Linked DNA regions of Homo sapiens: region 2 is linked to region 1. Evidence: fine-mapped expression QTL. A gene starts in region 1. The other region holds a variant in brackets. All regions are shown on one strand. Distances are from middle to middle.

What was found. PIP is the estimated chance that this variant, and not a neighbour inherited with it, causes the effect.
Region 2: its variant is fine-mapped to the expression of RAB9B in lymphoblastoid cells (GTEx, PIP above 0.99).

What each region holds. Positions count from the first base shown.
Region 1 is chrX:103,830,959-103,833,878 of GRCh38, reverse strand. It overlaps RAB9B (RAB9B, member RAS oncogene family), which reads left to right and starts at 1,622. Exons shown (of 3, transcript NM_016370.4): 1 at 1,622-1,819.
Region 2 is chrX:103,883,852-103,886,771 of GRCh38, reverse strand. All of the region lies in intron 4 of TMSB15B-AS1 (TMSB15B antisense RNA 1), which reads left to right. Among named protein-coding and RNA genes, the nearest start is that of TMSB15B-AS1, 34 kb to the left of the region's middle. The variant G/A (reference allele first, on the strand shown) is at 1,768.

The sequences.
Region 1 (2,920 bases):
TTCACAAAACTATTTATTGAGGTGCAAAAAGAAAACATTGGAACATCAATATATTTATTTTTCTCATTCTTTTAAAATTTCTGTGGAGTATTTTAATGTTTACTCATTAAAATGTATGTTTAAAGTAATGTGTAATGTATACATGTACAGTAGTACATGTATATAATCTATAAATCCTTATACATATGTTGGGGCCCATGCTCAATAGTTTTTTAATAGACTAAAATGTATGCGGAAAATTTGATTTAGAGGATTGTGTGAATCTCGTCTTCATCAGAAGAGTGTTTTAGAGTGTATGTGTGGGGAACGGGGTTGGTTTAAATAGGAGCACATGAGATTCAGTTACATCAATTTATTTTATTTAAATATAACAACTATTAGTGATACAGCATTCATTCATATTCAGCAAATATTTTCTGAGCATGTCCTATGCAGCAAGCATTGCCCTAGGCTCTGTGCATACGGTGGTGAACACAAACGTTGTCCTTGACCTCATAGTCCTTCCCCACTATAGTTTAGTAGGGAAGACAGCTGTCAACCAAATAATCATACACTTAAATGTACCACCAAAAATGGGTAAGTGTTATGAAGGAAAAATACAGCAAGTTACAGGAGGCTACAAGAGTATAAACTGGGGCACCATCTCTATTCTGAGATTATCGAGAAAGGTTATCCTGAGAAGTGACATTTAAGCTGGGGCCTGCGGAGATTGATTGCACGATTGCCTTGTCAAGAGACAGAGGAAGAGTGGCCTAGATGGAAGTAGCGGGTATGTGTGAGGGCCTGGACGGGGTCATGAGATGAGTGAGGGCCTGTGCCACAAGGTCACAGGGTTTCGGGCAATGGGGAAGCTTCAGAGATGGAGCTGCCTGACAGAGAGGTGGAGTGCAGGCTAAATGACCTCAGGAGCTTTGTCCTTCTTCAATTCCAGGGGGAAAATCACAAACTAGTTGGAAGTACCAGAGGGCTACAGAAAACAACAAAAAGAGACTAGCTGGTCGGCTAGGCACAATTAAAACATCAAATTCTGCCCCAGCAGCAATTCCGGGAAATTCAAGTAATGCCCCCTGTGTGGCCCTCTAGAACTGTATCTGGTAAGAGTAAAGGGCAGTGTGTCCTCTATGCCTGCGCTACAGATGTGGACATTTTTTTTAATTGCCTGAAAATTTCATAAGCTGTAGCCAGTTAGAGGGCCTAGCAATGTGTTGTGATCATGTGTTTTCCTGAGTTATTTGAAACAAGAGGGTGTATGTACTACCCTCTTGGCAAAATTAAAGGATTTTGAGCTAGGATAAATGAGGTAGATCAGAGGATAATTGCAGGAAGTGGGGCAGTGGCTAGCCCTGCTTGAGGGCTTAGGCCCAGGCTGCAGAGGAGCTAAGTGGAAGAGCAATATTTGACGGTCTATTGCCGCTGTGCCTACTAATCGGCTAGGGGAGGAGAAGGAGGACAAGGGAGACCAGGGTTGGACGATGAGCATGAAAGAAGAGTGGGCGAGCCAGGGAGCGCTTGCCACATGGAGGGCGGGAGGCGGCTACACCGGGTCCCCACCGCCGAGAAAGGGGCACGAGGAGGCGGCGCGGGCCCCGCCCCCTCCCCTGGCGGGCGCGGGCGCGGGCTCGAGACGCTGCGCGGCGGCAGCGGCGGGCGCGAGCGGCAGCTGTCAGGCCACCGAGGTCCAAGCCGCACTTGCTGCCCCATTGAGGACGAGGAGGCAGCAGGAGCAGTGACGGTGACTCTAAGGAGCCGGATTCCCGGCACGCAGAGCTGACCTGCCTGGCACCCGCGGCCCTCTCCTGTTTCCTTCCCATTGTGTTGGGTAAGGTGCCTGTGCGTGGGCAGGAACAGGGGCTAGGGGCTGGAGGACCCGGAAGGCCGGGAGGTGGGGGGCCTGTGAGAAGAGGGAGAAAGGAAAGTCTAGTTGATCCCCAGGACCACTCGTAGCTTGAGAAAAGGGACTGAGCCGCTCCCGAGGTCGGAGTCGGGGGCAGGTGACAGTGCAGGGGGGCGTTGCTGAGTAATCCCGAGCTGCTGCCAGAGCCGAGCAGAGAGGCGCAGGGCTCCGTGGGGAGCGGGTGTGGCTCAGTGCGCATGCGCCACAGCCGACTAGCTCTAAGAGCTGGGGGTGAGGTGAGAGGACCTGGGTCGGAGGTAGTTGGGACTATGTGTGACATCTCACTTTCTAGGTCCGTAATGCTAACAGTGCCCCTGTCGTAGAGATGCCAGCATTCTTGTCTCCCAAGGAAGCTTTTTTTCCTTGTGTTCAGCTCGCTTGATGTCATCCAAACCTTATCTACCTATCTGTCCCTGGGCAGTCTACTGAGGAAGAAGTGTCCTGGGGACGATGCCAGATTGCTATCTAGTGTGCCTTTGGGCTTATAGCCCTAGAGCTGTCGTTGTGAGCAGTGAAAGGTTAGATGTGGGACTCCACATTGGACCCTTTGAGTTGCATATAGGATATAAATGTGGGCATGAATGTAGGAATAGCGTTTCAGTGGCATGACAGCTGTGGCATTTGGAGTCGGCATGGATGTAGCTGATAACTTGTTAGCTCTGCAAAATGAATCCAGTGCGTCAGAGGGTTTCCGCGCTACGAAGCACCCACCACCAGCACCAACGCCAAGTATTGGGTTGTATTGGAAACACACTCAAACATTCAATCATTTCTCATCCGTGTTGAATTTTACATAAATATAGCCGCGCCCAATTCTTCAGTGCAATATTTCCAATTATTGTGCCAGCATTCAACAGTGAGTTGAGTAGCCCTTACCAGTGTGTCGCCACAAGATGGGCTTTCCCCACAGGTCCAACCATGGCTCCTCCCCTGTACAGACTTCCAACAGTGCCACTCTCATCCAGTGCCTAGCCCTCCCCAGTTGCTCTTCCCCTATCGATCCCTGCAGTACACATCCCTTTCAAG
Region 2 (2,920 bases), 53 kb before region 1:
AGATTTCTCTGTGGCATGTGATGCTGTTTAATAGCATTTACCTACAGTAGAACTTCTTTCAAAATTGGAGTCAGTGCTTTCAAACCCTGACACTGTTTTATCAACTAAATTTATGTAATATTCTAAATCCTTTGTTGTCATTTCAACACTATTCACAGCACCTTCACCAAGAGTAGATGCCATCTCAAGAAGCTACTTTGCTCATCCATAAGAAACCACTCCCCCATGCTCATGGATAGGAAGAACCAATATTGTGAAAATAGCCTTACTGCCCAAAGTAATTTATAGATTCAATGCTATCCCCATCAAGCTACCAGTGACTTTCTTCACAGAATTGGAAAAAACTACTTTAAAGTTCATATGGAACCAAAAAGGAGCCCGCATAGCCAAGACACTCCTAAGCAAAAAGAACAAAGCTGGAGGCATCACGCTACCTGACTTCAAACTATACTGCAAGGTTACAGTAACCAAAACAGCATGGTACTGGTACCAAAACAGATATATAAACCAAAGGAACCAAACAGAGCCCTCAGAAATAATGCCACATATCTACAACTATCTGATCTTTCACAAATGTGACAAAAACAAGAAATGGGGAAAAGATTCCCTATTTAATAAATGGTGCTCGGAAAACTGGCTAGCCATATGTAGAAAGCTGAAACTGGATCCCTTCATTACACTGTATACAAAATTTAACTCAAGACGGATTAAAGATTTAAATGTAAGACCTAACACCATAAAAACCCTAGAAGAAAACCTAGGCAATACCATTCAGGACATAGGCATGGGCAAAGACTTCATGACTAAAACACCAAAGGCAATGGCAACAAAAGCCAAAATTGACAAATGGGATCTAATTAAACTAAAGAGCTTCTGCACAGCAAAATAAACTATCATCGGAGTGAACAGGCAACCTACAGAATGGGAGAAAATTTTTGCAATCTACCCACCTGACAAAGGGCTAATATCCAGAATCTACAAAGACCTTAAACAAATTTACAAGAAAAAACAACCCCATCAAAAAGTGGGCAAAGGATATGAACAGACACTTCTCAAAAGAAGACATTTATGCAGCCAACAGACATATGAAAAAATGCTCATCATCACTGGTCATCAGAGAAATGCAAATCAAAAACAATGAGTTACCATCTCATGCCAGTTAGAATGGAGATCATTAAAAAGTCAGGAAGCAACAGATGCTGGAGAGGATGTGGAGAAATAGGAATGCTTTTACACTGTTGGTGGGAGTGAAAATTAGTTCAACCATTGTGGAAGACAGTGTGGCAAGGATCTAGAACTAGAAATACCATTTAACCCAGCAATCCCATTACTGGGCATATACCCAAAGGATTGTAAATCATTCTATGATAAAGACACATGCACACATATGTTTATTGTGGCACTATTCACAATAGCAAAGACTTGGAACCAACCCAAATGTCCATCAGTGATAGATTGGATTAAGAAAATGTGGCACATATACACCATTGAATACTATGCAGCCATAAAAATGGATGAGTTCATGTCCTTTGCAGGTTAATGGACGAAGTTGGAAACTCTCATTCTCAGCAAACTATCACAAGGACAGAAAACCAAACACCGCATGTTCTCACTCATAGGTGGGAGTTGCACAATGATAACACATGGACACAGGGAAGGGATCATCACACACTGGGGCCAGTCAGGTGATGGGGAGCTGGGGGAGGGATAGCATTAGGAGAAATACCTAATGTAAATGATGAGTTGATGGGTGCAGCAAACCAACAT[G/A]GCACATGTATGCCTATGTAACAAACCTGCATGTTGTGCAGATGTACCCTAGAACTTAATGTATAATAATAATTTTTAAAAAAGAAACAACTCCTCATCCATTCAAGATTTATCAAGAGATTGCAGCAATTCTGCCACATCTTCAGGCTACACTTCTAATTCTAGTTCTCTTGCTATTTCCACCACATCTGCAGTGACTTTCTCCACTGAAGTCTTGAACCCCTCAAAGTTATCCATGAGAGTTCGAATCAACTTCTTCCAAACTCCTGTAAATGTTGATATTTTGACCTCCTCCCATAAACCATGAAAGTTCTTAATGGCATCTAGAATGGTGAATCCTTTCCAGAGGTTTTCAATTTTCTTTGCTCAGATCCATGAGAGGAATCAATATCTACAGCAGCTATAGCCTTATGAAATGTATTTCTTAAATAGTAAGACTTGAAAGTCAAAGTTACACCGTGATCTATGGGCTACAGAATGAATGCTGTGTTAGCAGGCATGAAAACAACATTAACCTCCTTGTATATCTTCATCAGGGCTCTTGGGTGACTAGGTACATTGTCAATGAGCCATAATATTTTGAAAGGAATCTTTTTTTCTGAGCAGTAGGTCTCAGTAGTGGGCTTAAAATATTCAGTAAATTATGCTGTAAACAAATGTGTTATCATCCAGGCTTTGTTGTTTCATTTCTAGAGCACAGGCAGCATAGATTTGGCATAATTCTTAAGGGCCCAAGGATTTTCGGAATGGTCAATAAGAATTGGCTTCGAATTAAAATCACCAGCTGCATTAGCCTCTAACAAGAAAGTCAGCCTGTCCTTTAAGTCATTGAAGCCAGGCATTGACTTCTCTCTATCTGTGAAAGTCCTAGATGGCGTCTTATTCCAATATAAGGCTGTTTTGTCTGCATTGAAAATTTGTTGTTTTGTGTAGCCACTTTCATCGATTATCTTAGCTAGATTTTCTAGATAACTTTTTGCAACTTTTACATCAGCACTTGCCACTTCACCTTGCACTTTTATGTTATGAAGATAGCTTCTTTCCTTGAACCTCATGAACCAGCCTCTGCTGGCTTCCAACTTTTCTTCTGCAGCTTCCTTATCTCTCTCAACCTCTGCAGAATTGAAGAGAATTAGGGCCCTGCTCTGGGTTA